Regions from separate parts of the Homo sapiens genome. Here region 1 is linked to region 2. Evidence: fine-mapped expression QTL. A gene starts in region 2. The other region holds a variant in brackets. All regions are shown on one strand. Distances are from middle to middle. Region 1 overlaps ABHD17C (abhydrolase domain containing 17C, depalmitoylase). Region 2 holds the start of ABHD17C (abhydrolase domain containing 17C, depalmitoylase).

Region 1 (2,905 bases), 27 kb after region 2:
GCTCAGATGTTTCTGTCTTCTTTGTTACACTGTCTTTTGCATCACACTCTCCCTTGTCTTTTGGAACCTTTCACTTTCTCCCAATTTAATTTTCTGCTTCCCTGCCCAGGACTCAGGGATCACCTGAGGCCTTTCCCCTTTCTTGGTGGGCCCCCTGTTTTCCAGTTTCTACTTGTTCTTTCTTGGTTCTCTTTCTAGTTTTGCTAGAGGAAGTTTGTAATATCTTCAAAGGAATGGAAATGTAGGAGGTAAACTTTCTAGAAACCACTTGATGGATCCATGTCTGAAGGTCAGTTGACTTGAGAATGTAGAAGGCATTGTCCTGTAGGCACCTGGAATGCAGAGCCTGGTGCTGGACTGGTTCTGGTTTCTTGAAGCTGGCCTGTTTTTTCTTCTAAGGAAGCTTTTAGGATTTTTTTATATATATTCTTTGTGTTCTGAAGTTTTACAAAAATATTCCAAGGGAGGGTCTTTTAAAAATGATTATTAATGGCCGGACGCAGTGGCTCATGCCTGTAATCCCAGCTCTTTGGGAGGCCTAGGCAGGCGGATCACCTGAGGTCAGGAGTTTGTGACCAACCTGGCCAACATGGTGAAACTCCGTCTCTACTAAAAATACAAAAATTAGCCAGGCGTGGTGACGGGTGCCTGTAATCCCAGCTACTTGGGAGGCTGAGGCAGGAGAATCACTTGAACCCGGGAGGTGGAGGTTGCAGTGAGCCGAGATCACGCCACTGCACTCCAGCCTGGGCAACAGAGTGAGACTCTGTCTCAAAAAAAAAAAAAAAATATTAATTTATGTTGAACACTTAATGGGGGCCCTTACCGACTGAAGACTTGGATCCTTTGGTCTCAGAGATTTTCTTTAATATTTCTTTCAAAATTTCTTTTCCTACATTTTCATAGGTGTCTTTTATTACAACTTCTATTATACTGACCTCTGGATTTTCCTTGTCTCCCATATTCTCCATCTTTTTGTCTACTTTGTTTGATATTCTGAGAGGCCTCTTCAACTTTATTTTTGGGACTGTGAGTTAGATTTTGTGTTTACCCATCATTTTTTGTCTTTTTTTTTTTTTAACTCTTTGACTTCCCTTTTTCATAACATCCTGCTCTTGTTTTAAGGATATATTTTCATAAATCCAAGAGTATACTTATTTTTTTAAGCCCTATATGCTGGTCCCATACCTGTCTGAGTCCTCTGTGAAAGATACTTGGGTCTTTGATGCTGCTAGCTTTCCTTGTATGTTGGTAGGTTAGCTTGGTGATAAAGAGCCTGGTCACTGGCTCAGATTTGGGCTGAATCTTGGCTTTTTCATTTCCTAATTGCAAAGTACTTTAATAATAATGATATCCAACTGCTAGAGGTATTGAACATTAAATCATTTAGTACATGTACTTTTAGAATTGTGCCAGGCAAATAGCAAATGTGCCGTAAATGCTATCGTCATTGTCAT[C/T]GTCATCACAGGCAAAATAGCAGATGTGCCATAAATGCTATTGTCATTGTCGTCACTTTTGTTCTTCAGTTTACACTGAGGAAGGAAAGATTGGGTAACCAGGTTGGGTTTCCTCTGTGCAGCGTAAGGTGGTATTCCTTGCCAGGCCTCTCCCGCAAGAGGAAATTTGGCTGGGGGCTTTCAGACACACGCAGCCAGTAGGGCACTGGGGGCCTCCTTCCTTGTTGTGGTAGACTTTGTTTCTGGAGGGAAGGAGGCCCCCCAGTGCCAGCATAAGGATGACTTTCCTTGAGAGCACCAACTAAAAGTCTTAGCTCACCCAGGAGGGCTTTATACTTTGTGTTGGGAAGGGAGTTGGATTTGTATAACTTTCTGTTCAGACTTCCTATAATTTACCTATTTTTAGTTGCATGCTAATTTTGAGTCGGAATCCTCTCTGGGATTCAGGTGGTTTCCATCTTCCCTGCAGCCCTGTTATAGCATGTCCTGGACAGAGTTCTCCACTCGATTTTATCCGTCAGTTTGTTTCCACACACCTTCAGTTACCGAGAAGCGCACTGGAATTCCTTCTGATTTTTCCCTGTCTTCCTATTCTCTCTGCTGTTGTAAGTTTATTTCTTTCTAATTTTTATGCTGCTTTTCCAGTGATGTTTGGATTGGTTGAAAAGTGAACAGATGGGCTCAGGTCATCATTTTGAACTAGAAGCCAAAGGAATCTTTTTTTTTTTTTTTTTTAATGTTTCCCCTTTATCTTCACTATGAGAAAGGAATCTTTTTTAAAAGAACTGCTTTGTTGCGCTGTGATTGACATACAAAAAGCTGTAGATATTTAATATATACAACTTGATGTATTTGAAGTTTACACCTATGAAACCATCAAACTGTCATCACTGTTGTTGCCATAAACTTATCCATCACTCCAGAAGTTTTCTCTTGCCCACCCTTTTTTTTTTTCCTTTTGTGGTAAGAGCACTTTACATGAGATCTTCCCTGTTGGTTAATTTTTAAGTGTACAACGCAGTATTGTTAATCATATGCTCTATACTGTACGGTAGACCTCCAGATATTTATTTCATATAACTGAAACTTGGTACCCTTTAACCAACACCTCCCCATTACTGTCTCCCCTAACGCCTGGCAACCACCATTCTACTCTGTGCTTCATGTGTTTGCCTATTTAGATTCCACATGTAAGTGAGATCACGTAGCATGTGTCTTTCTGTGTCTGGCTTATTTCATGTAGCATAAAGTTCTGCAGGACCATCCATGTTGTTGTAATTGGCAGGATTTCCATCTTTCTAAGGGCTGAGTAGTACAGTTAGCTTTCGCATCTACAGATTCAACCAACCTTGGATGGAAAATAACAGTGTTTAAGCAATGCACAACTTGTGGATACGGAGGACCAACTGTTCACATCCTTAGGTTCTGCGGGGCTGACTGTGGGACTT
Region 2 (2,905 bases):
ATAAAGCTTTTTTTTCTTTTTAAAGGATTTTCGCAGAAAAATTCTTTTTTTAAAAAAAAAAAAAAAAAAAAGGAAATGCAAACCTGCAAAGCTAGAATTGGGCTTTATGTGAAGAGTTTCACCAAGTGTGAAAACCTTCAAAACAGACTTCAAATATGCAATCTGGACAGGCTTTGTTACCAGGTTTTTAAAAATCAAGTTTGAATAGTTCAAAAACAAGTAAAATTGTTTTAGTGAAGAAATGGCCTTTTAAAACCCAGGTCCTAGCTGGGCAAGGTGGCATGTGCCGGTAGTCCTAGCTACTTGGGAGGCAGGCCGGAGGGTCATTTGAGCCCAGGAGTTGGGAGTCCAGCCTGGACAATACAGTAAGACCCTGTCTCTTAAAAAAGAAAAAATTAAAAGCGAGGTCCTGAAGGTTAATGAAATCAGTATCGGCAATTCATTTAGATGACGGTGCTCAAAATATTCGTCCTGTGGAAAGTCACAACGAAAGGTAAAATTCTCAGGACATCTGTGAGTTAAAACAACAGACCCAGCGTAGGGATTGTGCCAACCTCCCAGTCTCTAGCTGCCCTGCTGGCAGTCCAGGAAGGGTATCTCCTGTCAGTTCCTGAAAGGGAATTCTTCAGCTGCCAAATCAGGCGGGAAAAAGGAAGTATAGAAGGCTCTGTGGAAACTGGCACCAGAGCACAGTTTCAAGGCACCGAGAGTTATATTTGAAAAATCATGTAAAGGTGGCTGCCAAGATTACAGTAGATTTAAAGCAGTATAAGAATCGTTCATGACTAAGACCACTGAAAAATCCTGGACCCAAAACAACTCTAGAGACACAAACACTGTAAACGATACCTAGTATATACTTACTACCGGAAAATCTGCCACACGTGGGATTAGAAATGACAACCTCAACATGGTTTGTTGCTAAATACAGTACCCTCCTGTTCTAACAGCTGACTTTTATAGATACAGAAATGTACTAAGGGTAAAACCATGCCCTTAGAAAGGAAACGCTGTTGCTACCTATACAGAAACAGCCTCTCCTAATAAGAAACACACTGATGACCACCCTATCCCACAACCCCGGTACCCCTTACGGTGCTGAGAACTTTTGGTACTGAGCCAGTTCAGAAAGCAGCACACACGAGAGCCAAATATTTCGGGCACATTCCAACTCTTGTCCACCCCTTAGTTTCCTTTTCAGTAGACTCCCAAGAACCTCCATCCACGGGAGAAACCTGGATTTGGGGGAGGGAATCCCAGGGGGAGGGGAGGGGAGCGGTCCACCCCGGGACACATGCACCCCCTCCAGGGTCCCCTCTGCAGATCGGCCCAGCTGTCCGGGCGCAGAGCCCCCAGCCCCGGCACCCAGCTTCTCCGGGCCCCGGAGCCGCCTGGAAGCCCCCGTCGGCCGCAGGTCGAGAAGGTGCTTCCCAGGCCGGGGAAGGTGCCCGCGCCCTTGCCCGCAGCGCCCCGCCCCGATGCCCGGCTCTGCGCCGCGTCCCAGCGGCGGCGCCGCCGCGCGGTAACCCGGAAGTGGCGGCGGCGGCGGCGGCGGCGGCGGGCGTGCGGGAGCGGGAACGGGAGCGGGGGGCGGCGCGCACGAGCCGGCCATGGACGCCGCCGCCGGCTTTGTGTGCCGCGCGCGGGCCCGGGCCGCCCGCGCCTCGCCTGGGTTCCGGGGCCGCCGCTGACCCGCCCGGGCTCCGAGCGCCGCGCCCGCCGGGCCGGCCCCGCCTCCTGCCCTCCTCCGCCTCCGCCTCCTCCTGCCGCCGGGCGGGCGGGCTGCAGCCGCCCTCCGCGCTCGCCTGCCAGCTCCCTCGCCGCGCGTCCGTCCTCCGTCCTCCCGGGCCAGCCAGCCAGCCAGCCAGCCGGGCCGGCGGCGGGCACCAGGCCGTCCCGATGCCCGAGCCAGGCCCCAGGATGAACGGCTTCTCGCTGGGTGAGCTGTGCTGGCTCTTCTGCTGCCCGCCCTGCCCGAGCCGCATCGCCGCCAAGCTGGCCTTCCTGCCGCCCGAGCCCACCTACACGGTGCTGGCGCCGGAGCAGCGCGGCGCCGGCGCGTCCGCCCCGGCCCCGGCCCAGGCTACCGCCGCCGCCGCCGCGGCCCAGCCGGCACCGCAGCAGCCCGAGGAGGGCGCGGGCGCGGGGCCCGGTGCGTGCAGCCTGCACCTCAGCGAGCGCGCCGACTGGCAGTACTCGCAGCGCGAGCTGGACGCCGTCGAGGTCTTCTTCTCGCGCACGGCCCGGGACAACCGGCTCGGCTGCATGTTCGTGCGCTGCGCGCCCTCCAGCCGCTACACGCTGCTCTTCTCGCACGGCAACGCCGTGGACCTGGGCCAGATGTGCAGCTTCTACATTGGCCTCGGCTCCCGCATCAACTGCAACATCTTCTCCTACGACTACTCGGGATACGGCGTCAGCTCGGGCAAGCCCTCCGAGAAGAACCTCTACGCCGACATCGACGCCGCGTGGCAGGCGCTGCGCACCCGGTGAGCCTGCCGGGGTCGCCAGGCCTGACTTCCAGCTGTGGGGAGGCGGGGTGGGGGTCTCTTGGGGCCCCTGGGGCGGCCTGCCAGGAGAGGGGCCCCTCCTCCGGGGCTGAGGGCCAGCGGAGAGCCCCTTGGCCGCCGTAAATTCGCTTTTCTTGTCCCACCCTGGCTTGCTCCCACCCTCTCCAAAAACCGCGCCAGCCTTCAGGTTCCTGGAGAGCTCGGACTCAGAGAATTTTGCCTGCTTTGGCTCGCCTGTGTGTCGCCGGCCCACCGGCTGGGTCTTTTGTGGCTCCGGTCACCGCGAGTGGCAGAGTGTGGGTGCTTAAGTACCGGGCAGAAAGAAACAACTTGGTTCGAGTTTCGTTTGTACGAGCTGAAGTGACCTTGGGCAAGGCACATGGGTTTCTAGACTC

What was found.
Region 1: its variant is fine-mapped to the expression of ABHD17C in whole blood (INTERVAL, PIP above 0.99). The same link has a PIP of 0.9 or more in neutrophils.

Annotation. Positions count from the first base shown.
Region 1 is chr15:80,720,148-80,723,052 of GRCh38, forward strand. The region is part of intron 1 of ABHD17C (abhydrolase domain containing 17C, depalmitoylase); the gene reads left to right. Among named protein-coding and RNA genes, the nearest start is that of ABHD17C, 26 kb to the left of the region's middle. The variant C/T (reference allele first, on the strand shown) is at 1,458.
Region 2 is chr15:80,693,531-80,696,435 of GRCh38, forward strand. ABHD17C (abhydrolase domain containing 17C, depalmitoylase) reads left to right here and starts at 1,780. Exons shown (of 3, transcript NM_021214.2): 1 at 1,780-2,489. The coding sequence starts at 1,900. RefSeq lists silencers at 498-792, 1,254-1,413, 1,434-1,543, 1,564-1,983, 2,074-2,123 and 1 more and an enhancer at 2,314-2,383.